Linked DNA regions of Homo sapiens: all the other regions are linked to region 1. Evidence: fine-mapped expression QTL. A gene starts in region 1. Each other region holds a variant in brackets. All regions are shown on one strand. Distances are between the middles of the regions.

Region 1 (10,379 bases):
AAGGTTCATCCATGTTGTTGCATATGACAGGATTTTCTTTCTTTTTAATACTTAATAATACCACATTTTCTTTATCCATTCATCTGTTGATGGACATTTAGGTCGCTTCCACCTCTTGGCTATTGTGAATAATGCTGCAATGAACATGGAAGTGCAAGTATCGCTTTCAGATCTTGATTTATTTTGGTTAAATACCCAGAATTGAGATTGCTAGACTATATGGTAGTTCTCTTTAATTTTTTGAGGAACCATACTGTTTTCCATAGTGGCTGCACCATTTTACATTCCTACTAACAGTGCACAAGGGTTCCAATTTCTCCCCATTCTCACCAACACTTGTTATTTTGTGTGTGTGTGTGTGTGTGTGTGTGTGTGTGTGTTTAATAATGGCCACCTTAACAGGTTTGAGGTTACATCTCATTATGGTTTTGGTGTGCATTTTCCTGATGATTAGTGATGTTGAGCACTTTCTCATATATGTGTTGGTCGTTTGTATGTCTTCTTAGGAAAAATATCTATTCGGGTGTTTTGCCCATTTTTAAATTGGGTTTTTTTTTCTATTCAGTTGTAGAAGCTCTTAAAATATTGTGGGTATTAACCCCTTATTAGATACATGATTTGCAAATATTTTCTCCCATTCCATAGGTCATTTATTCACTCTATTGATTGTTTCATTTGCTGCACAGAAGCTTTTTAGTTTGATGTACTTTCACTTCTCTAATTTTAATTTTCTTGCCTGTGCTTTTGGTGTGATATCCAAGAAATCATTGCCAAGGCCAATATAATAAAGCTTTCCCCCTATATTTTTATCTAAGTCCTTTGTGTTGCTATAAAGGAATACCTGAGAGCAGGTACTTTATAAAGAAAAGAAGTTTATTTGGCTCATGGTTCTGCAAGCTGTACACAAGAAGCATGACGCCAACATCTGCATCTGTTGAGGGCCTCAAGCCACTTTAGTTCATGGCAGAAGGGGAAGGTGAGGCAGCGCATGCAGAGATCACATGGTGAGAGAGGAGGCAAGAGAGAGATGGGGGTCATACTCCTTGTAACAATCAGCTCTCACTGGAACTAATAAAGTGAGAACTCACACAATACCTTGAGGATGGTACCAAGCTATTAATGGGGGATTTGCCTCCATGATCCAGACACCTCCCATTAGGCCCTACCTCCAACACTGGGGATTAAATTTCAACATAAGATTATGAGGGGTCAAACAAACCAAACTATAGCAATTTTCTTTAAGGAGTTTTATAGTTTCAGGTCTTATGTTTAAGTCTGCAATCCATTTTGAATTGATTTTTGTGTATGGTGTAAAATAAATGTCCAATTTCATTCTTTTACATGTGATCTAGTTTTTGTACAAATGTTTTCCCAGCACCATTTGTTGGAGAGATTATCTTTTCCTTGTTGTATATTCTTGGCATCCTTATTGAAGATCAGTTGACCACATATGCTTGGGTTTATTTCTGGGCTTTCTGTTCTGTTCCATTGATCTGTGTGTCTGTCTTTATGCCGGTACCATAAAGTTTTGATTACTGTGGCTTTGTAATATGTTTTCAAATCAAGAAGCATGAGATCTCCAGCTTTACTCTTCTTTTTCAAGATTGCTTTGATTATTCAGGATCCTTCGTAGTTCCATTTGAATTTTAAGGTTATTTTTGCTATTTCTGTCAAAAATACACTTGGGATTTCGGAAGGGATTGCATTGAATATGCAGAAAGTTTTGGATAATATGGACATTTTAACATATTAAGTCTTTCAACCCGTAAACACGGGATGTCTTTCTATTTAGGTGTATCAGCAAAAAAAAAAAAAAAAAAAAACCCTTATAAACTAATAAACAAATTCAGTCAATTGCAAAATAAAGAATTAATGTGTTTCTATATACTAACAACAAACAATCTAAAAGTGAAATTTACAAAGCAATCCCATTTACAATAGTATCAGAATAAAGTACCTTGGAATAAACTGAACCAAAGAGATGCAAGTCTTGCTCTCTAAAAACTACAAAACATTCCTGATCTTTTAACAAAACTTAACCTATCCTCTCAGGACTCTGTTAGGTCACGGGAAGGCTAATGTGGTAAATAAACACCAACTGAGTTATAAATGGCTTACTGGTTTGTCTTCCCACATATTGACCAGGAGTACTTTAACCCAAAGGTACAGGTAATAAGGTAATATGGACTGAACTGCCTACTGATGAAATATTTTTAAATGAATATTAAAAAATTTGTAAACTGCAACACACAATTGCTCTATCTAGCATAAAGTCTGCCTCTTTTTTTGCAGAACAGCATTTGTACAAAATTACATACATTGTGAGGTGTAAATACAAATAGTTATTCTTGGAAAACCTCTCTGAAATTTTAAAGTAATTCCATGAGAAGACATCATTTCAGATTTCCTAGTGTTGCATACATAACACGCTTTTCACTGAGTCTGGATAAATATGGTTTGGGAGGAAGTACAATAAGGAGGCAGTGGAATTTTTTTGGATCACTTACCATGTGCTTGATGATTTGCATGCATTATTTCATTTGATCTCTTTCAAACTCTTTCAGGTAGATGGTTGTCCCATTTTGCAGATGAGGAAATTAAGGCTCAGGGTAGTAGCATTCAGGTTCACTCACTGCAAGGCTGGATGTGAAGCTGTATCCACTTGGCTTGAAGCTAGTTCTTTTCCCTTTACACACTAGGTGGCCAGCCAGGGAATTGGAGTACAGAGAAAGGTGAGTAGCTCTGAAACCTGAGTGGGGCCTTGTGAATTTAAGCCGCCCTGTCCAGGAAGGTTTCCTGGGAGAGTGAGGTTGAAGAAACTGCTTAATATCCCTGAAATGGAAATATTTCAGTTACTGCCAAATGTGTAGCCAAAAATCAGGTTAAAGTAGTGGTGAAGTTAATCTTACAGGTTGTTTAACTGTCCTCAGTTGCATTTCGTGGTGTCCAAGATCACCTAATAGGTCCTCTAGAGGTGGGCCTGGGTTCCTGAGGATGGCTTAACAAGCAGGGAGGTAGGGCCTTCACATGATTTTCCTCTGGTTCCCAGCAACATTCTGCCCTGATCATCATAGAAGGATTTAGTCTATGTGTTTTTCGTTCGTTTGTTTTTTAAATTATAGAACAACCACTTCAGCTTGCTAAAAGGGCATCTCCTCTCTATACAGTGATGGTGCCCTTAGGTTCTGGTTGTATGGGGATAACCTGGCTGAATGACTTGTAGATGTTCTCAAGTGTCCACAGATCCTTTTGTTTTTGCTTAATGTGCCCTTGCTGTCATTTATTCTGCTCTCCTGGGAACATCAGTACACTTGATTTGCTAAATTGTCAGCTCATGATATATTTACCATTAACCAAAACCCAGGCTTATGTCATAGTATGGCAATTAGTGGGAGACCTATTTTTTTTTTTATTTGAAGGTGATTAAATTCATTTAGGGTGAATAGTATGAAAGACATGAGCCCTAAAGGTATTTGCAATTTGCATGGAATTCTGGCAGGTGTCAAGTTTGACTGCATTATCTGGTATCTCTTGCTGTTGACTTGTTAAAACTGGATCTAAAAAAATGTAATAATCTTTTATCCCTATAGCAGATCTTTCCATTATGATAAAACTCCTGCTGGTAGTCATCTGATGAAGAACTTTTCCCTGTGGCTATGATCCTACTGTGTCCCTACAGTACAGGCAACTCAACCCATGGTGGCTACTCACAAAGACTCACAGAACCTCCAGGACACTGTCAGTCCTAGCAAAACCTTACCCTGCTTTGTTCCCTTCCCACCCCCAATGGCCAGTTACTGGGTAATTGGGGTGGTGAAAAGCCCAGCGCGATTTCCTGTTGGCAGTGTGCTGATGCAGGAGAGGGTATAGCCCCTGGGCATGGTTTTGGAATACCCGGGTGTCCTCTGACCTTATCCTCTGTCCTAATGAAAAACTTCCTGGCGTCTAGTATTGCGGCTCTCACTGGGGTCATTCTGACTTAATTATTCTAAAATCAAAATAGATAATAGGCAGATAATGGAAGTTTTTTGGACTTTCTCCTTCCATTGTTTTAGCGAAGGAAGAAGACACACACAAATCCTCCATCCCACACTCAGTTCTATTTTGGCACCTGGTGACCGTCAGGAAAACCTGATAAACTTGAAAGTGTTGTTTCCCAATCACCTTCAGAACTGGAGAAACGCTTTCATGCTGACTTTATCCATGGGACTGAAGAAAGGGAGAGTGTGCTCACAAGCACAAACAGGAAAGCCTTACATCACGGAGTGGCGTGGGGAGGAGTCTGCTCCTCGCTTGCTCGCTCGCTCGCCGCGCTCCCTTTGTGGCCCGAGTCGCGCGCACCGGCGGCGGCGGGGGCAGCGCGGCGCGTGTCTGTGCGCTGCGGTCGCTCGGGACCGGGACCGGGGCGAGGCGCCGCGGGGCTGAGCCCAGCAGACATTGCGTTGGCCTCCGAGCAGGGCGCATCATGCAGCGTTCGCGCACCGGAGAGAAAACTGAGAATGAAATTGCTTTGGCAAGCTAAAATGGTAACGAGAGCTCTCTGCCTTCTCCCGAGGCTTCTCTGGTGGGGAATCTTCTCCCGCTTTCGCTGGGCGTGTTTTGGACTCCCTCGGAGTGAACGGAGCAATCCGATTCCATACTTGTGAGCTAAAGCTCTCTCACTCCGCTTTGTATTCCTCTCTCTCTGCGTGTCTTCTCCCTTTCAACCGTACCTACTTTCTCAGCAATTGCCTGTGGTGTGTCTGGGGCAGATGCATGTCAGGAGGGGAGAACTTTGAAGGAAAAAGAACTGTTAGTGTGGGTGAACCGCGGAGCGCTTCTGCGTCCCAGCGGCTCTTTAACACAAACCTCAGGTTTAGCTGGGGACATGGAAATCCAGGGGGTCGCTGCACAGATTTTAGTAGAAGCTGCCTGATGATGTGTTGCTTTTTCTGCACTTGCCAGATTATTTTACGGAAATAAAAACTTTCCACCCCCGCTAACTTTGTGGGCTCCAAAACAATGAGGAGAAAAGACAAGCAAACCACTTCACTTCCAAAGGAGTGAGGACTCTTGGCGTTTTAAACACTTGTTTGTGTCTGAGTTTAAAATCTGGTTTCTTCAATGACCGAGCCACTCTAAAAAGTACAGACTTATTCTTTTCTTTTTTTCTTTTTCTTTTTCTTTTCTTTTCTTTTTTTTTTTTTTTTTTTTTTTTTTTTTTTTTTTTTTTTACAAAGAATTATTTTTCCTTTCACTTAAGGGGGACAAGTTAATCAGGACTAATCTAGTTTCTTTGTAAAGAAAAAGAAAGACTTCAAAACAAAACTATTTAAGATATGTGAGCAAGTCTAGGAGAAATAACTAAATGGAAAAGTCAGGGGATCCTGATACCACAGGAAGGGACTGCAAGCCAAGAAAATCTCAGCATTCCCTCTATCAAAATGTGTCTTGTATTGCGGATTGTAATATTTATTTTGAACAGCCCATCTTGTGCCCTGAGTGCTGTTGTAAGCAGCAAGGCAGCTGGGATAGATTGTGGTTAGCAGAGAGGAAAAAAATACTCTTTTTCTTTCTCTTTATCCCGTCCCTGGCAGAGCTCGATTCAGGACTGGGGTGAAGAGGTAGAGGAAGGAGCTGTTTACCATGTCACCCTCAAAAGAGTCCAGATTCAACAGGCTGCCAATAAAGGAGCAAGATGGCTAGGGGTGAGTAAAGCTGGCGAGATGGTGAACTTTGGAATTTCAGTGTCTGTCGTTCTGTGAATATCATTATTATTTAACAGAGGCAGGCTTTTTTTTTTTTCCTCTTTTCGCTTTAAAAAGGAAAATGCTAATGACCAAGTGTTTGCACTAGCTGAACAGGTCTCTTTTTGTATTTAATGTTTTCAAAAGCATCTTCCCTAGGTTTGTCAATAATTCAGAACCTCTTAGAAACATCTTGAGGTCTTTGGCAAATAGATTGGGGGTGGAGTGGCAGAAAATGACACACAGAATACAGGCCCAGAGAGCAGCACTCTCTTAGACAAGAGCCATAAGCAGCTTTGCCCAGAAGCCACCCTTGTCTCTCTCTGCCCTCCCCCAATTGATGCTGTCAGCGTCTGCCTTGCTCCTATATCTCTAGGAGGTACCCAGATTGCTCAGGAGACAGAGCATTCCAAGTCTGCATCCTTTGAGGGGTGGTAGATTTCCTATTGTGATCTCTTTTCTATATCTTGGGAGGAGGCAAATGGATGCTTAGTACCCACTACTTTGTGTGTAGAGTGGTGGGCCTTTGGAAAAATGCTGCTTCTGTAAACAGGACTCTTTTCCACTGAGATTGTAAAATATTGGGTGAGGTCATGCAAGTTTGTAGGTATCACCTAGTAGATCCTTCAACACATCCCAAATAAAGCGAATATGAGAAATGGAAAGCTCAGCGACAGGATCACTACTTGGGCAAATGTCAAACATGTGGAAGAATGAAGGGATTCTTGATCTGGAAGGAGAAGTAGTTCTCAGACCAGGCGGTGAGAGGCGACCCAAAAAGCCTTGAGAAAGAAAATAATGGTTGGCTGAATAGAGGGGGTGGAGTGTGATTTCACCTGGCTGGCCTTATTTTAGCCGATGGGCTTCAGAGTGTTGAAGATTTATGCACTTGCATCCCATCTTTAGCGGCTTGGAGTCTCTGAAAATTCAGAATATTTTGAGCAGCATTCAAAGGTGGAGTGTGAAGGAGGATAGGACACAAAATTGCACAGGGCCTCCTGTTAAGAGTAGTGGTAACGTGTGACTTGTAACTCCAGGGAGTTTAAGGCAGGATGGTGGCCCATGGCCGGCAGCAATCACTTCCTCTGCCATGAGTCTGCTGACACAGGCATTCATTGCTTTGGGCTTCCCCAGCTGCTTCAGCTCAGGCCTTTCCTGCTACTGTACTTTGGGCCAAGGTATCACCCATGAGGGCCAGAAATTGTTAATGACATCTGCAGGTGTGGTCTGGAAAGATAGGAGCTTTCCAGTGAGAACTAGAGGTCTTCACTTACCAAGTACCTACCTTACTCAGAATATGATTTTAAAATTAATTATGTATATCACTAGCAGACCTGATAGGGAAAGCAGAACTAGAGTTCTGACAAGTCATCACTTTGTTTTTGGTGGTTGTGTGTATGTATTTTATTTAAATGTGGCGTCCATGTGGTTTGGCCTCTAGCTATTTCAGAATGATTCACAACTTCTGAACCAGTTGTCTTCAAAAGGGTCATTACATTTTTTTGGTATCAGGTTATTCCTCTCTTTCTAATGAGACTGACTTTGCTTGGGTGACTGTTTTAGTTTTCAGCCATATACAACATTAGTTATGAGTAAGTCATTGGAAATGGAGGGGTTCACTCTGTAGGCCCCACATCTACAAACTGTCATGTATTTAGATGCTCAGAGTTATTTAGTAATCCCCACTGACTGTTCTCTTCACTAGACTTCACTTCTTTTCTTCTCTCTCCCTTCTCTCAGTGTTCTCAAATTTATACAGAGTTCAGAGTTAATTCACCCTGGATTCAACAGTAGATATGAAATACTGAGAAGGAGGATAATGTGAAAAGATTGGCTCTAGTTGATGGAGGAATCTGTCCCCCTCGCCCCCATTTCAACAAAGTGTGATTTACTGCTACCAGCCTACTCCTTTATTGCAAGTTCCTAGGGGCTCTCCAGCTCTAATCTACGTGTTTTCTTGTCTTAGGTGTCCTGTTGGGAAGTTCTGTTTTTGTCCTTGAAAATTCCAGACTTAATTAAATGTGACTCAACCCATTGAGCCATAGCAATTACAAACCTTTCTCTTTAGAACTGAGTGGCTTCCCCATGTTTGTTTTCCTGTATTCCAGTACCCTTTCAAAATTCTTCAAAGTAACTAGTTTCAGAGTTACTAGAGAGTGGGGTCAGGTGAGGAAATTATTGCAATATGACAACAACCTTCTGAGGAAGGTGGTGTTGTGATGATCTCTCTCTCTCTCTTTTTTTTTTTTTTAACATGAGGAGACTAATGCCCAGAGAGGTTAAATTGTTTGCCAGGGTCACACAGCTATGAAGTGGTAAACACCAGATTCAAATCCAGATGGTTGGCTCTTTGTTGTGAAGAATTTCCTGGGACCTTAAGGCTGTTTCCATAGTAGTAGAAAAGAACATTGGCTCAAAAGACTGAGGATGCTTTGGGTGTGCTTTTCCCTAATGTTGCAAGACTGGAGAGATGTAACTTTCTTTTCTTCATGTCTAGAATGATAACTTGAGCTGCAAATTGAGATATTTGTTGCGAAGCTATGATCTCACTGATAAACTCCCCATTTTGGAGGTTTAAAGCAGGGTGCATTGAAGATATGAAGATACGTATGAGGTTATGTAGCATGTGAGGATAGGCATAGCTTTGTTACGTGTCTGTAATGCTTATTCCAGATGCCTAAAAGATGGAACATAATTTTTGTATTTTCTAGTATTCAGATCTCAAAACATAATTAAGATTCAATTTTGGGGAGGAGAGCAAAATAATTACATATCCTCAGATGTGAAGTATTATACAGTCCAAAACATTTAGGTCATTCTTTTTTATTTTGTCTGTTAAATTCTGTGTTCAGTTGATCTTTTAAAGTAAAACTCTGTGTTTGGAAAACTACAACCAAGTATGTCCCAGGCCCAGTTTACTTGTACGTGCAGCTGCATCCTTGCCCATTGACGGTGAGATTATATTGGCAACTTTGAAAAACCAAATATTATTGAAATACTGACCCATTTTCCCTTTACAATAACATCTTTGGCTGGGATAATTTTACCCACCTATAATTCTCGAAGAAAAATGACTTCAATTATGTCACAAAATTTAAAAAATCTTAGGATTGGAAGAGACATTAAAGAGCAATTCCGAGCCTAGCACAGTGGCTCATTCTTGTAATCCCAGCACTTTGAGAGGCCAAGGCAGGCTAATTTGCTTGAGGCTGGGAGCTCAAGACCAGCCTGGGCAACATAGCAAGACCCTGTCTCTACTAAAAATAAAAATAAAATTAAAAAATTAGCTGAGTGTGGTGGTGTGTGCCTGTAGTCCCAGCTACTTGGGAGGCTGAGGTGGGAGGATCGCGTGAGCCAGGGTGGTCAAGGCTGTAGCGAGCCATGATTGCACCACTGCACTCTAGCCTGAGTGAGAGAGTGAGACTCTGTCTCTTAAAAAAAGAAGTAATTTCACCCAGACATTCACTTATCTTGTGATTTTTGGAAGAGCAAAGTGTCAAAACTTGTTATTTGTCTTTGGTCCCAGTGTTGTGGTTGTATATGGACAGTGAATAATATAGAAAAGAGTTAAGAAAATATCAGTATCCTCTGGAAGCAGGAAGTGTAACATTTCAGGATGAATACTCAAAGGGACAGAGGAAAAGAATTCAACTGTTTGGGAAGGGCTTTGGTGTCAGAAGTTCATGCTGTTGTCTTCAGAATATGACAGACTCAGGGTCCAAAAAACATGTCAGCCTAAGATAAGTTCCAAGTGAGGATATTTTTTTTACAAGCAAGATTGTGAGTGCTAGGTCACTTCTGCAAAATTTGTGGGCAGTGGAATGATCAGTGGTTAGTCACGTGGCTCTTCTTAGTCCTGTACTTCTGTGGTCATGCAGTCCTTGTGGTGGGGCACTGAGGCCTTTCTGCCCTGTGTCCAGTGTTTGTCACACCGTTTCCCACATAGGCTCTTGATAAATGTTTGTGGGACTGAGTTGAAATGCAAGATAGATGGGAGTCTGGTAAAGAGAGGGAAATAGAATGGAGAAAGTTGAATATATGTAGAAATAAAAGAACCTAGAAACATTAGGTCATAGAACGTGGCATTTGGGCAAATTGTGGCCAATCATGGGTTATGTGGGGACTGTGGTAAGATAACCATTTGTCACATCTGGATTGAGAAGTTGACTCTCACTTGGATGTTCTATTTAGATTGACTCTACCTGGCATTTTCATGGTGTTGCTATCCATGTTGCCTTCAAATGGCATACAGTTCCTGGAGTTTTCAGCTAATTTCACTTCTGGGAGCCTTCTCTAATCCCCCAGCTCTGGATGAGGCGTCCCTTCTGTGTGCTCCAGAGGCATTCTGCGTCTCACTGTTGTGCATTTACCTCACTCTGTTGTAATTGCCTGTTTACTTGTTTGTTATCTTCCATTAGACTGTAAGCTTGCAACCATGGCCATCTAGTTGGCAGAAACTCAATACATGTTTGTTGAATGAATAGGTCATGCCTCATCCTTCTTTGGGGGACTAATATTGTTTTTATAAGTATGAATGCATAGTTGGTTCTCATTTAAAACAAAGTCTACATGAAGATGTTCACTTACAAAGAAGAAGAAAGGGGCATGGGAGCAAGAAAAATCAATTAGGTAATGATTATAGCTGTCTTACAC
Region 2 (10,379 bases), 140 kb after region 1:
AATGGCAGAGGAGAAAAATTCCACCTTGACTATTATGCCATGATAAGGATGAAGCACAGCTTTGGTTTACATAGATACCTCTGAAATCCTGGACTGACTCTGTCTGTCATTAAATGATGTATCACATCCAAAAGTGGATCCAATCGCCAGTCAGGACTGCCATCTGCCATCACTGGGGCCATTTTGCTAGCTCCATTTATCAACACCCCCACTATTCCTGCCTAGTGGACGGTTTTCAAGACGGAAAGTAAGATGTCGTAAGATTAAAAGATCTTTCAGATCATTTCTTAAAGATGGGATGGGGCTTCCAGCTGTGTTTACAGAGGTTGGAAAGGCACAAAAAAAGGCCAGATGGGAGAATCCTGAGGCTGCTGTCTTCAGGTCCCCAGAGTGTCAGCCTTGGATGCCTTCTGCACAGCACTCCGAGTGCTGGTGGGAAACACAGGACCAAATAAGCTGGGGGAAAGAGTCAGTCTGCAGTGAAGGTTCTGGGAACCCAAGAGTGGCCCTAAGGGGTTCCTTTTGGGGAGGATGAATGACAGCTCCTGACAGGCATTCTCCTGCCTCACACTCGTCCAGCTGTGGCCAGGCTTCCTCCCAGACATGCTGCTCTGAGAAAGGCCCCCCAGGCACCTTCCGTCCTCCGTGAACAACTTCTACAACACAGGATGCACCTTTGGCCACTCCCATCTTCCCTAGTCTACCCATGGATCTGTGCTCCATTACTTTTGTCCGGAACCTATTGATTTGGGCTTGACTGGAGCAACCTGAGGAGTTGCCTCCTTCTTGCCTGCCAGGTAAAGCAGTACTTCCTCTATTTTGCCCTAAAACAATCTCTTTCAACATTCAAGGGATTCCCCCTTGTGAAAGCATCCCAGGATTTGTAGAACAAGTCTATGTTCAATCTTCAGTTCTTCTGAGAACAACAAACATATATCCCCAGCCACTCTCTCTTCAGATTACGGAGTCTGAGCTTCTCTCGTGTCTCATCCAGTGGAAGGGAAACTCTTATCGAGCACTTGAGAGGAACTAGAGTGATAGAGGTGCTGAGTTAATGCTCTAACTTTAATTAATTTAATTTTAAATGTTGAAGCTGTGTGAAATATATATATTTTTTCCATGAAACAAGTTCATTGTTTTGGTAGGACGACAGTTTACTTTTTTTTTTTTTTTATGGAGCCTTGCTCTGTCGCCCAGGCTGGAGTGCAGTGGTGCAATCTGAGCTCACTGTAAGCTCCGCCTCCTGGGTTCATGCCAGTCTCCTGCCTCAGCCTCCTGAGTAGCTGGGACTACAGGAGCCCGCCACCATGCCCGGCTAATTTTTTGTATTTTTACTAGAGACGTGGTTTCACCGTGTTAGCCAGGATGGTCTCGATCTCCTGACCTCGTGATCCACCCGCCTCGGCCTCCCAAAGTGCTGGGATTACAGGCGTGAGCCACTGCGCCCAGCCCAGTTTACTTAAACAGCTGAAAATTTAGCTTCTGGATTGAGAGGTGTTCTAAGTGTAAAATACATACCAGATTTTGAAGAGTTGGTACAAAAAAAAAAAGAAGGTAAACTATGTCATTAATGGTTTTAAAATATTAATTACATACCAAAATGATGATACTGTTTGGATATTTTTGTTAAATAAAATGTATTAAAACTAATTTAGTCTAATTTATTTTTACCTTTTTAATGTGATTACTAGAAAACTGAAAATGACATATGTGGCTTGCATTATATTTCTATTGAACAACACTCCCTCAATGATTCCAATGACTTGTTCTATTCTTCCCTTTTATTATTTTCTTTTCCTGGAAAGATGTAATGTGGCAATCATGAACAGCTTATTACCTTTCATGTTTTAGGTTTAAGTAACATTTGTTTCTTTTTTGTTTTAGAAAATAACAGGTACAATTTAAAACTGTTACAGTTCTTTAAGACTATATAATAGATTTTAAGGGGATATTTTGACTTGATCAACCTGTGAAATTTAGAAAACATTTTTTTCCTGTATCCTTATCAAGACAACTGTTCTTCCTTCTTGCATCTGTCGGTACTTTGTCCTGAGAAATGCACCCACCGAACTACATGTGAACGGGAACGTATGCCAGCTCTAAACCTTAGATTCTCTGGGCTCAGTCTTCTGTGATTATGAGGCTTAAGTGAAGTTGCCTTTATACAAGTCACGTGGACATCAAGTAGCTTCCAGGCCTGTGAGGCCTTAACCACAGGCTGCGGAGCCATCCATTGAGAAAGGCTGAAGTGCAGCGACTTCTGGAGGATATAGGAAGAAACAGTGATCTCAAGGGACTGTGCAGAATGCCAAACCAAACCACATGACCACATGACTGAAATCTGACAGGGCATAGGTGTCTTATTACACAGTGACGCATTAGTTGAGCCATTGCTAGGTTTCTTCTGAGCTCAGAGTGGCCCATTTTCTGAGGGAACAAGTATTCCACCTGGGCCCACAGTTAAATACCGCCTGTGGGTGGGAGAAGCAGGGACAGCTCCTCTGCTGCAGCTGCTCCAAAGAAGCAGGCTCAGAGTTGATGAATTGCCTTTGACACACAGCTGGGAGCAAACACAATGCTTGGGAACTTTCTGCTTCATTGGAGAGAAATTGAAAGTGTCATTTGTTTTAAAAAGAAAATGAGAGAGAGAAAGGAGGAGGCAGAGGAGGAAGAAGAAAAAGGAAAGAGGAAGGGAGAGAGGGAGAGGAAAAATGAAAGGGAAGGGAAGGAAAAATGAAAGGGAAGGGAAGAAAAAAG[C/T]AGAAGCCACTCAATTCCCAGAGAGTAGACAAAGAACATTAACTAAATGTCAGCTCAGAGCCAGCACTCCCTTGGTGAGCCTGGTTTTCCTGCATCAGCCTCAGACCCTTCCCCAAATCTAGTTGTCCATGTTCTTCATGTTTGTGCAGCCCCATTTCCCAACAGAGGAGCTCCCTGGCTGACCCTCTAACCTCCCACCTTCTCGGAAGCTGCAGAGGCAACCTGCTGTCCCGGGAGCTGAGTCTTAAATATGACACAGGACTTTAGAGCTTGAATAAATGGCCTCTTCTCCAGCTTCACACCCACTCCATGTGCCACGTTAATTGAGGGTGGGATTTCTGCTGTGCTCCTAAGTAAGTGCTCAGTGCCACACCTTGGTTCTGTCTGAAGGTCCCTGATCTGCAGGCCGACTCCAGGTCTCAGACAATCTTCCACAGTTTCCCACCCTGAAGAGTAGAAGGATGCAAAATCCAGTGGCTAACCTCTACCCATTTTTATTTCTGAGAACATTTATGGAAAGAAAACTAGATAAGTGGAAGCTTAAGCTGTATCTCCTACTGGCTGTGGAGGTGGGGCTCTCTGCGCATTGGAAAGGACTGAGTGCCTCTCAGAGCCCTCTCGTAAGATCATCTTGTCACTCACATCAGTTCCCAGTCCAGCTGAGCCTGGTCAATGTTATCCATCAGCTTCATCAGCTTCTTCTTAAACTGATGCTCAAAACGCACATCGTCTTCAATTACAAGAGTCTTCTCTAGCTCTCGATCAATTACCTGCAAAAGTCATCAGTAGGAAGATACCCTATGAAAAGTTTGAAACCCAATTTTTATTAGATAAATAAGTATTAAAAAGTCACGAGTCTAGTAGCACAGATTCATAACTGGAATCTAAGCAAATGGCCATCAACAGTAGAATAGATAATAAACTTTGGAATATTCACAGCAGTGAGGATATATGATCACAATTAAACGCAACGTTATAGGTGAATCTCCTAAATGTCATGTTAGGAGAGTACACATACTGCATGATTCCATTCATATAAGGGAAAGTACAAACAAAGGTAAAGCTATTCAATGCCTTTAGAAGTCAGGATGGTGACTGCCCTTGGGGACTGATGACCAGAAGGCAGTACGGGGTGGGGGGGTGCTTGTGGGATGCTGGTTACCTGCTTCTGGATCTGTGTACTGATTAACATGGGTGTGTTGTTTGGTTTGTGAAATTTCCCTGAGCTGTATCTTTTGATCTATATCTTTTTATACCTATTTATCACATTTCACTTAAAGTTTAAAGAAAACAAAGGCAGGCATAGACTGGATCATTAAAAGAGAAAGTGTTCAAGGGGCCTTTCTTCAGGGACTTTCTTTTTGGTTGTGGAAACTGACTGTTTATCAGGAACCCCACACACCAATATCTGCTCCAGATATGTCTTGATCTGTAAGACAGGGGTTCCACTTCTGGCTCTGCCACTTCTTACCGGGTCAAGCTACTTAATAATTTCTTCTTCGGTAAAGGTGGTCTGTCCTTCCCAACCCACCTCACATGACTTCTGTGTGATTTCTTGTATAAAATCACTTAATAAGTGATGTCATAATAGGTATAATAGAAGGCATTCCTGCTAATGATGATAATGAATTAATAAGAGTGTGGCACACAGGACATGGGTGTCTCCCCCGTCACCACCCCAAGTGGCACCAAAGCTACTCCTCCTTGCCCCTTTGTTGCTGGTCTTGGGTCAGAGGGAGACACAAGGCAGGAGCAGCTCTCATGCACATTTCCAGAACAGTTGCGGGCTCACTTTACATCTGGCCCTAACTCACCTACGATAGCCTGCTTTCCTTTCTCCTCATCATAAAACTGCAATCTGAATAAAGCATTATTTACCTCTTTCCAGACTGAGTAGTGGCTGAGAAAGCAGCCGATTTCACCCCTTGTTAGAGGCCTGGAGGAATAGGGATCTCGATAGCCAGGCAGCATTTCAATATTCAGTGCCTTCAGCTGGCTTGTGTTGAGTGCCCTGCATCACATAAAACACGTCTGGAGATTAACAAGTCAAAGGTCCCCACCACAAAGGCCAGAGAAAGAGAGAGTTAGTTCTGCAAACACCCCTCCCCCACACAGACAAAGACAGAGAGGCTTCCCTTTATTCCTTAGAAGTTCCTCCAGGCTAATGTGTCACACTAGTATTATGAGGTCTGGGAAGACAAGAGGGTATCATATTTTTGTGTATCCCTCATAGTGCCCAACATAGTTCTAAGCATCATCAGTTTTTTGACAAGATTTAATAAGTACACTCCTATGGAAATTAGTTAAAGTACTGCAATAATCCAAGGAGTGTTTGATCAAGACCTACTGCTGAATCTCTGTTAACACAGTGAGCTTTGTGAAGTTCACAGCTGCCCTAATCCTAACCTGTTCACCCCAGCCCTACAAAAGCCTTGAAAACCAGTAGCCTCACAACTAAGAGAGCGGCAAACCCCACCAACCCAGAAGCCACTGGCAGGGACAAAATGGACTGAGACTCCCTTAAAGACCTGCCCCCAGAAAATAATCTCTATTCAACCTGTCTAGTAGCTCCTTGAAAAGCTACATTCTCAGAGCTTGTCTTGATTTGACCTGACTCAGAGTTCATTTTCTGTGAACAGCACTATCTGCAGGTCATTTGTCAAAACCCATGAGCAACAACTGTTTAACATTACAGCTGTTTGAGAAGCATTATCAGCTGATGCTAACAAGAAGCCCACCAAAAAACTTAAAAGGAAAAACCAAGGAATAAGAGGTCCATAGGGAGTTTGATTTGCTCCAAAATATCCCTGAGAATCTAGAAGGCCCCAGGCATATTCAGGGCTGTCCACACGCCCAGGAAAAACTTGAGAAGTCCCTAGTCTCTCACCTCTGGCTGACCTTAAGGATCTGGAAAAAAATGTAGTGAAGGCAAATGAATAAAACACTGCAATGAAGGAAGAATTTGGCATAGTAAGTTTTAAAAATTAATACAACCATGTGGTATCTATAAGAGGCAGCCTTTAGATTAAAAGACAAAAATAGGTTGAAAGTAAAAGAATAGAAAAAGATATACCATATAATCAGCAATGACAAGAGAGCTGGCAGAGCTATGCTAATATTGGGCAAAATAAATCTCAGACAAAATTCATGCTAGAGCCAAGGAAGGACATTTTTTAATGATAAAAAGGTTAATCTGGGCCGGGAGTGGTGGCTCACGCCTGTAATCCCACGACTTTGGGAGGCCGAGGTGGGCAGATCAGAAGGTCTGGAGATCGAGACCATCCTGGCTAACACGGTGAAACCCCATCTCTACTAAAAATACAAAAAATTAGCCGGCCATGGTGGTGGGTGCCTGTAGTCCCAGCTACTTGGGAGGCTGAGGCAGGAGAATGGTGTGAATCTGGGAGCTGGAGCTTGCAGTGAGCCAAGATCGTGCCATTGCACTGCAGCCTGGGTGACAGGGCAAGACTCCATCTCAAAAAAAAAAGGTCAATCCATCAGGAAGGCATAACAATTATAAATACATATGCACCTAACAGAACCTCAGAACCATGAAACTGGAAGAATTGAAAGGAGAAACAGACAATTCAACAATAATAGGGGAAGACATCAATATCCCACCTGCAATAATAGAACTAGGCAGGAGGAAGACAAGGAAACAGAAGACTTGAATAATATCTTAAAATAATCAGACCTAGCAGACATCTATAGAACATTCCACCCAACAATAGCCAAATACACACTTTCAAGTGTGCATAGAACATTCTCTAAGAAATACCATTTTTTAGACCATAAAGACCATATAGGTCATAAATTAAGTGTCAGTATACTTAAAAGGATTGAAATCACACAAGGTATGTTCTCCAACCTCAATGGTTTGAAATTAAAAATCAATAACCAAAGGAAACTTGGGAAATTCAGAAATGTGGAATTAAACAATACACTCCTAACCAATGGGTCAAAGAAGAAATTGCAAGGGAAATTAGAAAATATTTTGAGATGAATGAAAACACAGCATACCAAAACTTATGCGATACACTTAACATAGTACTTGGAGATATAGTTACAGCTGCAAATGTCTCTAGTAAAATAGAATATCTCAAATAATAATCCTCCCATCCATCTTAAGAAACTAGATAAAGAGAAAATTAAACCCAAAGCAAACAGGAGGAAGAAAATAATAAAGGTTACAGTACAAATAAATGAACTAGAGAATAGAAAAACAATAGAGAAAAATCAACAAAACCAAAAGTCAGTCCTCTGAAAAGATCAACAAAATTGACAATTATTTGCCTAAACTGATGAATTAAAAAAAAGTAAACTCAAACTATTAAAGTCAAGAATGAAAGAGGGGTCACTCCTACTGACCTTATGAAAGTAAAAAAGATTATATGATAATACTATGAACAATTGTATGGCAACAAATTAGATAACCTAGATGAAATGGACAAATTGATAGGAAGGTACAAACTACCAAAATTGACTCAAGAAGAAATAGAAAGTAAATAAATAACAAGAAAAGAAGTTTAATTAGTAATAAAAAAAATTTCCATAAAGAAAAGCCTAGAACCAGATGGCTTCACTAGGGGTTTCTGCCAAATGTTTAAAAATTGTTAACACGAATCTTTCACAAACTTCCAAAAAAAAAGAGGAGGAGGGAACACATCCCAGCTGATTTTATGAAGCCAATATTATTTTGATACAAAACCAAAAACATTATAAGAAAACTGCAGACCAATATCACTTATTAATATAGATGTGGAAATCTTCAAGCAAATACTAGCAAGAGAATCCAGCAATTTATAAAAGGAATTATACAGCATGACCAAATGGGTCCCAGGATTATCCCAGGGTTGCAAGTTTGGTTTAACATGTGAAAACCAATCAAAGTAACGTACCATATTAACAGGCAAAAGTCACATGTTCATCTTAATAGACACGGACAAACCATTTGACAAAATCCAATACCCTTTTATGATAAAAATACTCAACAAAATAGGACTAAAAGGGACCTTCCTCAACCCAGTAAAGGCCATCTGTGAAAAACCCACAATTAACATCATACTTAGCAGTGACGGACTGAATGCTTTCCCTCTAAGATCAGGAACAAATCAAGAAACTGCACTCAACAGTTCTATTCAACATTGTACTTGATGATCCAGCAAGGGTAGTTGGACATGAAGAAGAAATAAATGGTATCCAGGTTTGAAAGGAACATATAACACTATCTCTACTTGCATGTGACATGGTCTTGTATGTAGAAGATCCTAAGGAATATACACACACAAAGGAAAAAGTACTATTAGAACTGATAAAAAGGGTTCAGCAAGGTTGCAGGATACAGGATCAATATACAAAAATCAATTGTATTCTTATTCATTTAGCAATGAACAATCTGAAAATAGAACTAAGGAAATAGTTCCATGTACCATAGCATCAAAAGAGTAAAATACTTAGGAGTATATTTAACAAAATAAATGCAAGACTTGTATACTGAAAATGACAAAACATCATTCAAAGAACTAAAGAAGATCTAAATAATAAAAAGACATTCCATGATTACGAATCAGAAGACTTCATATTGTTAACACGGAAATATTCTCCCAGTTGATCTACAGACTCAATGCAATTCCTATCAAAATCCCAGCTGCCGTTTTCTTTATTTGTGGAACTTGACAAGCTAATTCTAAAATTCATATGGAAAAAGTAAGGGACCCAGAATAGCTGAGACAAACTCGAAAAAGAATAACAAAATTGAAGGACTCATACTTCTTAAATACAAAGCTACAGTCATCAAGACGGTATAGTACTGGCATAAGGATAGACATATAGATCAATCAAATAAAATAGAGAGTTCAGAAATAAATCCTTACATTTATGGGCAACTGGCTTTTTACAATGGTGCCAAGACAATTCTACGAGGGAAACGAAAGTCTTTTTAACAAATGGTGAAGGGACAAATGGATAACCATGTGCAAAAGAATGAATATGGATCCCTGCCTCATGCCATATACAAAAATTTACTCAACATAGATCAAATACCTAAATGTAATAGATAAAACTGTAGAACTCTCAGAAGAAAATTTCATGAAGTAAATCTTCATGGCTTTGAAATTGACAATGGATTCTTAGGTATGACACTAAAATTACTAGCAACAAGAACAAAAAATAAATTGGATTTCATCAAAATGAAAAACTCTTTTGCTTCAATGTATACCATCATGAAATTGTGACAATCAATAATGCATAAAGTTAAAGAAAATATTTGACAATTACATATCTGATAAAGGACTTGCATCCAGGATATATAAAGAACTCTCACTACTCAACTAGTTTCCCTGGTCCATGTGGTCTATGAATGGGACTGGTGTTCTTGGAGGTATTTGAAGCAGTGGTTCCTAAACTCTACTGCACCCAAGAATAGGGCTGACAGATTTAGGAAGTGAAAAACACAAAACACTCAGTCAAATTTAAGTTTCAGATAAATAATGGATAATTTTTTAGTATAACCAAGCCCCATGTGATGTTTGGGACAAATTTAACTGGCTATCCAGTATTTTATGGGGCAATCCTGTCTAAGAATCACCTTGAGGCTTCTTAAATGCAGATCCTGGGTCCAGCCTCAGAGAGCATAATTCAGCAGGTCTGAGATGGGACTGAGGGAGCTGTCCCCTTAACCATCCGTGGGGACTCTGATGTGAGTGTCCAGGTCACACTTTGGGAAACACTGATGAGATTCTCTAAGGGAGTCATAAAAACTTCAACAGCTGCTAGCCATACTCCTTAGTTGGAGTTATGCAAATAGAAAACAAAGCTACTGATATTCTAAACCAACATATAACATGGAAAGGCACATTTTATAAAAATCTATGCCTTGAAATAGTTTAGGGTGTCAAATAAAAGGGCAAAGCTGAACAAAATAAAAAAAAAAAAAAAGAAGGGATCTAACTAGGTTCCCTGTGTTACTTTCCTGCCATATTTCCAGGAAAAGTGGCCACTATGATCGGTCCAGGCAGATTGTGGCAGGCATCTCATGCAACAGGAAATGTACACCTTTATGCATTTTCCATCTATTTTCTTCAGATTGACCAAGTTTCAGCACTTTATGCTCTAATTCAGCTCTGAACACAATTCTGAACACATTCCTTCTGTTACACTACAGAAGGCTGAAAACCACCACAACTGTTGCAAGAACCCCCAGAGACGGGACAATCACATCCAATGTGAGCCTTCAGTGTAATGAAGACCAAAGACCACTGGCTGGTGAGTGGATTTCAGGCCTGCTCTACAGGATGAAATTAACTTAAATGCTACTACAGGTGGCCGTTTTGAAAATAAGACTATCCTCTAATGACCGAAGAGACTTAGAGCCCCACCTGGGACTAACTCTCTGTCAGAGAAGACACATCCACACTCCAATCACATCTGCAATGGGAGAAGAAACCCAACTCACTTTCCATCCACAGCCTCGACAATCTTGACCTCAATCTCCTGTTCATACAGTGTGCGCAGCATCCGGTCCCGCCTGTCCTTTCTGCGTTTGAGGTTTATCATGAAAATCTAATGCAAGAAGGAAAAGGGAAAAGACACATAAATTACTCAAGTCTTCTTTTAGGCTGTTT
Region 3 (10,379 bases), 96 kb after region 1:
AAGGCTGAGAGATGGAACATGTTGATGCTCTATCACTATCAGCAAGGCCAAGCCACTGAAAAAAACCCTTTTGTGGTTGTACAGTAGTGGAAGGTCACGTGCTATGGTAATACATAAATCTCAGGAAAAGTGACTAAGGAAAAACTAGTGTAGAAGTTATATACTACTGAATTGTGCAATTTACCCCCCCATTCATGCAGTTCCTGGAAAATGAGAACTTAACAAGACCCCAAAACCGCAAAAGCACTTAATGTTCAGTCAGCAAACTCATGATTACTCATTATATAGAAGAGTTTGTTGTTACAATAGACAGGAGGAGAGAAAGGGTAGCCATGTGTCCTCAGGCACCAGGAGGAAGGATTGATTTGTAAGAGTTCCAAACCTGAGAGGCAATTTAGAAGAACTGACTGGGGGCTGGGGATGTGTGAAAGTTCGACTTTTATGGATTGGTCATGTAGTACAATATTGGACTTCCTCAGAAAACTTCCGGTGCAAAAGTTTCATTTAGCTAAGAAATGCTACAGAAGTAGTCCCTTTCTTTCACAGAATGCTGGCACATCCATTTCAGGCCAAGATCGAGAAATCACAAAATGTACTGAGGAAGTCGATCTTTGTTTTCAGGATATCTGATTACTTTGAGTTTAATTTGGGATCTGTAAAAATGTCTTCATTTATGAGAATTGCCTGGCTTGTATTGATGATTGCTTTCATAACCAAATCAGGTGATCTTCTTACAAAGTAAGGGGAAGGCCAGGTGTGGTGGCTGGCTCATGCCTGTAATCCCAGCACTTGGGGAAGCTGAGGCAGGTGGATGATCTGAGATCAGGAGTTCAAGACCAGCCTGGCCAACATGGCGAAACCCCATCTCTACTAAAAACAAAAAATAAAATAAAATATAAAAATTAGCCAGGTGGTGGCGCATTCCTCTAATCCCAGCTACTCGGGAGGCTGAGGCAGGAGAATCACTTGAACCTGGGAGGCAGAGGTTGCAGTGAGCTGAGATTGCGCCACTGCACTCCAGCCTTCCCAGCAGAGTGAGACTTCGTCTCAAAAAAAAAAAAAACAAAGTTGGGGGAAGAACAAGAAAATCCAAGTCCACCAGCCTCGTTATAAATAGGCAACTTGCAACAAGCCAGCCAAGTATTTGCATAATATACATCGTGAGAGCCTGCTGGAGGCCTCTTCATTTTGCATGGTGTTCCGAGCGAGAGTTATGCAGGGTTGTGTGCGAGAAACTAGATGCCTCTTTACTTCTTACCATTGTGGCATCCTGTATCAATTCCCTCTGTGTGCATTTCTGTTTCTCAGGAAGGAACCTCAAAATTTGCAAACCTGGACAGCAGTGTGAAAGAAAACCAGAAGCGTACCCAGAGGCGGCTGCAGCTCCAGAAGGACATGGTATGTCTGGCCCTCGTCTTCCCTGACAGCTCACAGAGGAGAAGGGCCGTGTGCGTCTGGGCTCCCACATGGCACTGGCACCTTCAGTCAACAGGGCACCCAGGCTTTCAGAAAGGGTCTCCCATTCTCTACCCCATTTGTTCTCAGCAGCCCTGGGAGGTCTATAGGAGAGAGATGATTACCCTCATTCAACTAGTAGGAAGTAAGCACTGGGTGGCAAATCCTGTTTTCTGGCAAAGTTGTTTTCTGAAGGTGAGGGGGAGTCTACAGCAGGTCGACTTCCTCCCTCTTGCAGTCTCTTCCGCCCCCTCCTGCACTTAGAAGCTGCTCCACCTTGGCCTGAGGGCCTCCTGAGCTTCCTACTGTAGTCAGCTTCTGATACATGGTGACCAAGGAGAAAGAGTGTCTTCTCCACAGGGCCCTGGTCCTTGTACTCAGAGATCTTTTCATTTGTTCTAATCTAGCCATTGCCCAGCTCTCCTTACTAATCCCAAGGCTAACCAAATCTTTATAGTTTTTCAATATTTAAAGGAGCATCATGCCTCCCTCCTGAAGACTGAAAGATAGGTATTATCAACTTTAGCTTCATTTTAAACTTCTGACTGTTAGCATAAAGTGTGGAAGACCAGAGGGAGGAGATTAGAGACTGACAAACTCTAAATATTCTGCTTTAAGAGGGTTTTCTCTTTCTTTGGAAAGCTCAACGTAAGTAAGAAATGTTTTTGAATGATAGGACTCTTCCGCAACATGAAGCCTATAAAACATTCACAGTGTTACAAACTTTTTTGGTTGTTCAAAGACAAGCTAAAAATAGCTGTTACCAAAAAAATAGATTATTTTAGTACAGGATGAGACCTTGTACACAGAATGGGAAGGACACACTGCAGCTGACAGTGAGTTCCTGAAGGACAAAACCCTCCTTGGTATGAACCTCACAAAGCAGTTCTGGCTGAGGAAGCAGCCAGCCTCATGTCAAGCAGCCTGGCTTTACCCTGTTTGAGGCTTTGTGTTCTGCCAAAATTTCCAGAATTGGCTTGATGAGATTTAGGATAAGGGATCCATGGGGACCGCTTTTTACTTTTCCTTTAGGATGTTTAGTGCCTTGGTGGCTTACTGAAGAAGAGAGATGATTTTAAAGGAGATTTAGTGAAATGAATATAGTGTATCCCTGCAGTTGTAGGTAGAAGTGCCTCCACCTTCATTTCCAACTTTTTATTCTGGAATAAGTTTAGATTTACAGAAAAGCTGCAAAGCTAGAAGTGCAGTTTCCCTCATTGTTAACATCTTCTAAAACCATAGCACATTTGTCAATACTAAGAAACTGACACTGGCATAATACTATTAACTAAAATCTAGACTTTGTTTGGATTTCACCAGTTTTCCACTAGTATCTTCTTATCTGTTCCAGGACCCAATCCGGCATACCAACTGCATTTTGTTGTCTGTCACCCCTGTCTCTTCAGGTCTACGACAGTGTTTTCTTGACTGTTTTTTATGACCTTGGTTGTCTTAAGGGGTCTATCCAGGTATTCTGTAGAATGTTCCACAGTTTGAGGTTGTCTGCTGTTTTCTAGTGATTAGACTGAGCTTCTGGATTTTTAGAAAGAATATCACAGAGTAAAGTGCCCTTCTCATCACATCACATCAAGGAGTGAATGAATGGTTTCAGCGTGACATCTGGTGTCATGTTGATGGTGACACGAATGATGTTGATCTTTATTACTTGGTTAAGGAAGAGTTTGCCAGGTTCTTCCTCAGAAGTTACTGTTTTTCTCTTTCCCTCCTCTATTATTTGAGAGTTAGTCACCAAGTCTAGCCCAAGGGGTTATATTAATAGTGATGCCCCATGCTTTTGTGGTACATACTTCTCTGTGTACAACAGCCAATGGTGAGGCAATGACTATCCAGTGCCATCCCCAACTACCAGGAATGTCCCCATGCTCTGAAAGAGAACAGACATCCTTCTCACTTGAGCCAAAGCAAAACATAAACCCCACAGTCAACACTTTTGAACAGATGTGTATGATCTCCTGGCTTTGAGGCTTGGTTTTCATGATTTCACAAGTTAGATATTAGATCATGGAGTTTCTATCCTATTTGTGTAGAAATTTAAAAAATGTTATTCATGGAGGTTAGCACCACTGGCCCGCAGTTAGGCCTTGAATACATCCATTTGCTCCAGCTTGAAGATTCCTAAAACCCCTCAACTTTTCAATGACAATAAAGACAGTTTTGCTTTGGATGCTCTTCAGGGTGTGATGCAGGGAACTGTGCCCTACCTGGGCACCTTCCTGACTGACCTGACCATGCTTGACACTGCCCTTCAGGACTACATCGAGGTGAGTTCCATGTGGGTGGTGTGATCGGGCCTGCAGCCTTCCCACTGGATACCCTAAAGAGTAGTTAACTTCTCTTAGTATCTTTTGAAGGTCCAAAAGTACATGGCATTGTGCTAGCTGTTAGGAGGAATACAAAGAATAACACCAAAGACTAACACCAGAAGTGGCTCAAAATCCAGTGGAAGTAATTAATATATCAAAATAAGCAGTGAACGATAGTAATAATCGAAATTCAAACAAATGCATTGAGAGAACATGGGAGATGACAATTATTATTATTTTTTTGAGATGGAGTTTTGCTCTTGTTGTCCAAGCTGGAGTGCAATGGCACGATCTTGGCTCACTGCAATCTCTGCCTCTCGGGTTCAAGCAATTCTCCTGCCTCAGCCTCCCAAGTAGCTGGGATTACAGGCGTGCACCACCACGCCCAGCTAATTTTTTGTATTTTTAGTAGAAACAGGGTTTCACCATATTAGCCAGGCTAGCCTTGAACTCCTGACCACAGGTGATCCGCCCACCTTGGCCTTCCAAAGTGCTGGGATTACAGGCGTTGAGCCACTGCACCCGGCCCACAATGAACTCTTATGAGGGGTTGTGATGAACAGGGCTCATGAAGGAGTGGGTTTGGGTTTGAACAAGACTTTAAGGCCGGGCGCGATGTCTCATGCCTGTAATCCCAGCACTTTAAGAGGTCAAGGCAGGTGAATCACCTGAGGTCAGGAGTTCAAGACCAGCCTGGCCAACATGGTGAAACCCCGTCTCTACTAAAAATACAAAAATTAGGCTGGGTGTGGTGGCTCACGCCTGTAATCCCAGCACTTTGGGAGGCTGAGACAGGCAGATCATGAGGTCAGGAGTTCGAGACCACCCTGGCCAACATGGTGAAACCCCATCTCTACTAAAAACACAAAAATCAGCCGGGCATGGTGACACATGCCTGTAGTCCCAGCTACTCAGGAGGTTGAGGCAGAAGAATTGCTTGAACCCGAGAGGCGGAGGTTGCAGTGAGCCGAGATTGCGCCACTGCACTTCAGCCTGGGTGACAGAGCAAGACCCCATCTCAAAAAAAAGAAAAAGAATAAATAAATAAAAATACAAAAATTAGCCGGTCATGGTGGCAGGTGCCTATAATCCCAACTACTCTGGAGGCTGAGGCAGGAGAATCACTTGAGCTCGGGAGGCAGAGGTTGCAGTGAGCCGAGATCGTGTCATTGCACGATCTAGGTGCCCAGCCTAGGTGCCAGAGTGAGACTCGGTCTCAAACAAAAACAAACAAACAAACAAACAAAAAACCCCACAAGACTTTAATGTTGAGTAGGACTACTTGGTGGGGTAGAGAGTCAGTCAAATTTGTGATTTTTCAAATATGCTTTTCTTTTTGTATTGCTGCCTGCTGTGGGGTATTTTTCTCTCTCTCTGTCTCTCTCTCTCTCTGTCCCCTTGTCCCTCTTTCTCTCTGTTCCCCCTCTCTCTACCCCTACTCCCTTCATCCCCCATCTTCTCTGAAAGGGAAAATACATGAAAACTCAGATAAACAACTTGTTAGTAGCAGCAATAAAATATTAAGTGAAGAAGAAATTTCAAATTTGAAATGAAATTGAAAGATTGCTTGCATATTTCAGTATATACTACCCCCTTGTTATCATATGCAACCAGCCTGCTTTTATTGTATCTTAATTAGAAGAAGTAGAAGTTACTTTGCATAGATCTACCTACCTTTGGATTTGCCACAGTGTTGTGGACACATTTATTCATTTTGCATCTCCTGACTTCTATGTCTCTTCACATCCTCTTTCTCAGCTTATCTCAGGAAACACCCATCAGTGTTGGGGAATTCTGGGGAGTAACCAAAGATTTAGAAGTTAAATTCAGCCTACTGAGAATAGGAGCTGAGGGGATGAAGAATTGAAACTTAACTTTTCATGATGCTATGGAGAAATGACTTCCCTTTTGATAAA[C/T]CGTATGAGTCAATGACCATCTGTTTTAGTTGCTTTTGGTAAGGGAAAAAAGTGTAATGGAATATTTACTCAAGCTTTTATCTTTACTGGTTCTGCAAGTGTCTTTGGATCCTGATTTGTAATTATTTATCATTACTATTTTAGTTGGTTTCAGACATTTCAAGAGAAGGCTTTCTGCTTATCCTGCCTTATAATAATACTTTTTTTAAAAGCAAAACAGGACTCTCTTCTTCCACAGTAGTCGTAATTATAGGATCATTGATAATTGTGACTTTATCACCCCTTTGATCTATTTTAATGTGACCTACGACAACATATGGCTGTGTTTTAAAGTAGCTTGGTTGCTCACTCTTTTTATTAAAATTTCTTTTAGGGTGGACTGATAAACTTTGAGAAAAGGAGAAGGGTAAGTAGAGTTGTTGGCTGTGTTTCCTTTGTCTGAGCATGAAAAAAATGAAAGAAATGGGGACTTAAGTTTTTTTGTAGAGGCAGAAAAAAATGAGTTAGCACCTACTGAACGTTTATCATATACCATTTTGCTTGGCATTCTCCTATACATTATCCCCCACTAGCCTTATGAGGTAGGTTTTATCATCCTCAATTCAAAGGTGAGGAAGCTAGGACTCAAGAGATTAAATTACTGGACGAGAATCTCTTGGTGGCAAAGCCAGGGTTCTCATCCTGTCCTGATGCCCCAAAGCCCACATTTCTTCCCTGCCCACTCCTTATCTCCTTTACAATTAGCTTCAGCAATAGCAGGCTTGCCACTTAATTAATAACAATGTATTTTATACTTGAAGATTACTAAGAGTAGACTTTAAGTATTCTCATCACAAATAAATATGTGAAGTAATGCATATGTTAGTTAGCCTGATTTAGCCATTCCACGGTATATACATGTTTCAGAACATCATGTTGCACACCATAAATACAAACAATTTTTTAATTTGCCAATTAAAATAAAAACCAGGTTTACCCTATTAAGGATAAGGGGTTTCTGATGAGTAAATGACATAGAAGAGTTAATAAAGATGGTAAACTCTCGTGGGTATACTCGAGAGAGGAAAGGAAATGGCCTTCGTCTTCGGTGTAGGTAGTTATTCTTTCCCTTTCGTGTCAGCATAGGAAGGTGTGCTCAACATCAATTTCACTCTTCCTGTGGATAGCACAGTTCTGAACTGTGCTATTCAAGATAAAACAGTCTTGAAATTTTTCTGTGATTTTCATATTCAAATGGCATATTTAAATAGATATTTAAAAGACTCAAAGGAAAATGAGTGAGCAAAATAATAACTTCACCCTGTAGTACTCTCGTTATTTTTCAGTACTTTCACATTCCACAAATATTGACTGTCTACCTAACATGGGGGGGGTTTGGGAATTACAGCAGAGAAAGAACAGAGCTGCCTGCCCTCGTAAAGTTCACAATCCAGGAGAGAGGTAGACAAATAAATAGGCAGTTATAATACAACCTGAAAAGGGTTTGTGAGCAGAAGTAGTGGGTGTTAGAGAAGTATATAGGTGGGGTATCTATCTCCAACTTGTAGGGCCAGAGAAACTTCCAGGAGAAAATGACGTTGAAGTTAAAACCAAAAAGGCATAGAGGAGCTAAACAAAGCTGGGCTTATCAGAACAAGATACTAACCTGGACAAATGTAAATTTTTTGTCCCATATAGACGATACTTTTTTCTTTAGCATGATGGTAAATATTCCTTGAGGATACTGAGACCAAGGGCCGAGGTCACTGGATGGCAAGTTGAGACTTGGAGAATCTACCAGTTCTTGAGTTACTTCTGTCATGTCCTGTAATGATAATAAATTCAGTTATTGCCCCCTCAGTTCCCCTCTCTGTCATTTAACTTCAGAATAACTGTGGTTGGTAATCTCTTTCCTTTTTAGACTAGGATATTAAACTTCTGGAAAGTTTGACTGTAAAACCTAAACCTAAAGCTTATACCCATTGCTGACTTAAATTTTTTTTATTGAAACATCCAAATAAGTATAAATAATTTTCAACATAATTATGTACTTGCCTCTCTGTGAGTTTTAAAAGACTTAGTTAAATGATTTAGTGGCGTAGTAAAAACCCAAGGATTCAGGAAATCTAAACATTCAATTTTATGAGACCTAGGACTGTTTAGATACTCAGCCCTACCAAAACTTATTTATTGAGGGGTAAAGGTTGAGGAAGATGGGGATGGGGATCTTGGGAGCTCCCTGACTTAAAGTATTTCTTTTCTTTTTTTTAAGAAATATGAATAGAAATTAATATATTTTATGAAGTACTTAAAACCTTAAAAATCATTTTTCTATTCCAAGGATGAAAGTGAAGAAGAGAAAAAGGAAGCCACTGTAACTTAACGTAGTGACTAGTTTGGGTTGCTTTGGTAGCTTGTTTTATACAAATTGCTTTCTCAAGGAGAAAAGAGGATTAAAAATTAAAGCATACAAGGACTTTGGAGAGTTCTAGTTAGAATTTTTAAGAGTTAGTTAGCTCCTTTATTTTTAAGGAAGCAGTATTTCAGAATCCTCCTAGATGGTTTTCTTCATCTTTTATCCTAATGTGGTATATTTTCATGTTGAAAGATTCTATATTTGGTTGGCCTTATTATTCAGTCTTTTTTTTTTAATTTTTGGTATTCTGTCTGCTTTAGGAATTTGAAGTGATTGCCCAGATAAAGCTCTTACAGTCTGCCTGCAACAGCTATTGCATGACCCCAGACCAAAAGTTCATCCAGTGGTTCCAGAGGCAGCAGCTCCTGACAGAGGAGGAGAGGTGGGATCACCTGTCGTTCATCGGGGTAGAACTGAAGTGTTGGCAAGAAAAATGCTGCATTTAATACCTCGCTGGGTCATTTATTCAACAACTATTTAGTGAGCAGCTGCTAGGTTCCAGGTCCTTGGTTTTCAAAGGCGCATGGTGTGGCAGGAAAGGCTGAGTTGATAGCATCAAGATGTACTTTCAGACTCTTGCTTGGCCACTTATTTATCTTTGTAACCTTGAACAAGTCATTTGTTCTTCCCTATCTTAAGGATGCTCATCTGTAGAATGTTTGTGAGGCGTAACTAAGATCTTATGTGGGAATGCTTTGTTAGAATGCTTGTCCTCAGCGTTGTCACCACCACCACTGTCACTGTGTTTGTCATTCCTGTTAATTGATGGTAGCTTTCCAGGAAGCTTTCAACCTAGAGGGGTTGAGAGACTCATGAAACTTTGAAATATGATGGGTAACTACATTCCTACAAAACCTATGGGAAGAATTGGGGAAAATAAGGAAAATATAAAGGCATTAATATTTAGGCTGGCTGTAAAGGAGAAACAAGATTTTGCCATAAGAACCGGAAGAGAACATTCCAGACCGAGAGAGAACACAAGCAAAAGCTTGGTGGCCTGACATGTTTGGCATTTGAAGGAACAGTGATAACTCAGGTGTGGCAGGGACACAAAGAACAGTTTAAAAATAGTGGGATGGGCATAGAAAGGCATGTTCACTTGAGTGCCCTGCCTGCTGGCTCAGCACGTCCCTGTCCTGTAGCCTGCTCGCTTGTTGGCAGATTGGTCTGCAGGCCATATGTGGCCCACTGCCTGTTTTTACATTTTTAAATGATTGGGGTGGGGGGGAACAAAAAAAGAATATTTTGTGACACGAAACAGTTATTTGAAATTCAGATTTCAGTATCTACATAAATATGGTTTTATTGAAACACAGCCCGTTCATTTACATCTCATCTATGGTTGCTTTCATGCTGTAAAGACAGAGTTGAGTAGTTGCAACAGAGACCATATGGCCCACAAAGCCTAAAATACTATGTGATCCTTTACAGAAGAAGTTGGCCCATCCCTACCCTAGCCCAGGGGATTTCTTTGGAAGTTTATCATAAGGGAGAGTGAAATTGACAGCAAAATAAGTATTTACAAAAAAAAAAACTTGAGGTTTAGAGAAATATTTGAATGAATTAATGACAGCATTTGGATTCAAACTCAGGTCTGCCCGGCTCTACAGCCTAAGCTCTGAAGATGGCTGTATAATGTTGGGCACCCTTCCCCACCTACTCAGTAACGAAATACATCTACTGTCTACAGCTACAAGCTTTCATAAAAGGCACTTGGAATCACATATAAATTCCTCTTGTGCTTGTGTCAGTTATATCTGCCTGGCAGATAGAGGTCTGAATCTGGAGCATTTTTAATTTAGGAAGTTTTGGCAATTAAAAATTTAAAAAAGTATTTGTAGGCCACCCTGGCCAACATGGTGAAACCCCATCTCTACTAAAATAAATAAATATATATATATATATCTTTATCAGTAATGTAATTGCCTATGTCTGTTCATTGACGATCAGATAGATTACAAAAGTCTCTTCATTTTCTTTAGATAAAACTAAGTCATTTGTGCATGTGCACAAACACACATACAAAATAGTAGGAAGGAGGTAATAGAGAAGAAATAGGAGGGGGAGGTAGTAGAGGAAGGAAGATTCTTCCACTGGCCTAGCAGTGGGATGAGAATGATCAGAATGGAGTTAGTTTTTGATGCTGCCAAAGTGCATATATCCTTGTATTTGAAACACGCAGAACTAAATAGCCTCAATCCATATGCCAGTGGAGGTGAGGGAGGAAGCACATAAGATAAATGTGTCAAATCGGGCCGTGAAGTCAGTACCCCCTGACGTTTATGATAG

Which allele goes with the higher level. Positions count from the first base shown, and alleles are read on the strand shown. Sizes are in standard deviations (SD) of each study's normalised expression. Not every link is listed here.
As copies of C replace T in region 2, the expression in lymphoblastoid cells of the gene that starts at base 4,322 in region 1 goes down (small effect, 0.28 SD a copy in GTEx).

Evidence for each region. PIP is the estimated chance that this variant, and not a neighbour inherited with it, causes the effect.
Region 2: its variant is the best candidate, but not a certain one, in a credible set for the expression of RGL1 in lymphoblastoid cells (GTEx, PIP 0.55).
Region 3: its variant is the best candidate, but not a certain one, in a credible set for the expression of RGL1 in whole blood (TOPMed, PIP 0.87).

The regions. Positions count from the first base shown.
Region 1 is chr1:183,800,799-183,811,177 of GRCh38, forward strand. It overlaps RGL1 (ral guanine nucleotide dissociation stimulator like 1), which reads left to right and starts at 4,322. Exons shown (of 18, transcript NM_001297671.3): 1 at 4,322-4,526; 2 at 5,577-5,687. The coding sequence starts at 4,500. RefSeq lists enhancers at 5,942-6,001, 6,745-6,794.
Region 2 is chr1:183,940,797-183,951,175 of GRCh38, forward strand. COLGALT2 (collagen beta(1-O)galactosyltransferase 2) reads right to left here. Exons shown (of 12, transcript NM_015101.4): 8 at 10,211-10,317; 9 at 4,636-4,768; 10 at 3,400-3,527. Among named protein-coding and RNA genes, the nearest start is that of COLGALT2, 92 kb to the right of the region's middle. RefSeq lists enhancers at 4,004-4,846, 4,847-5,689. The variant C/T (reference allele first, on the strand shown) is at 2,758.
Region 3 is chr1:183,896,500-183,906,878 of GRCh38, forward strand. It overlaps RGL1 (ral guanine nucleotide dissociation stimulator like 1), which reads left to right. Exons shown (of 18, transcript NM_001297671.3): 10 at 1,309-1,398; 11 at 3,651-3,737; 12 at 6,069-6,101; 13 at 8,351-8,472. Among named protein-coding and RNA genes, the nearest start is that of RGL1, 97 kb to the left of the region's middle. RefSeq lists an enhancer at 1,623-1,782. The variant C/T (reference allele first, on the strand shown) is at 5,696.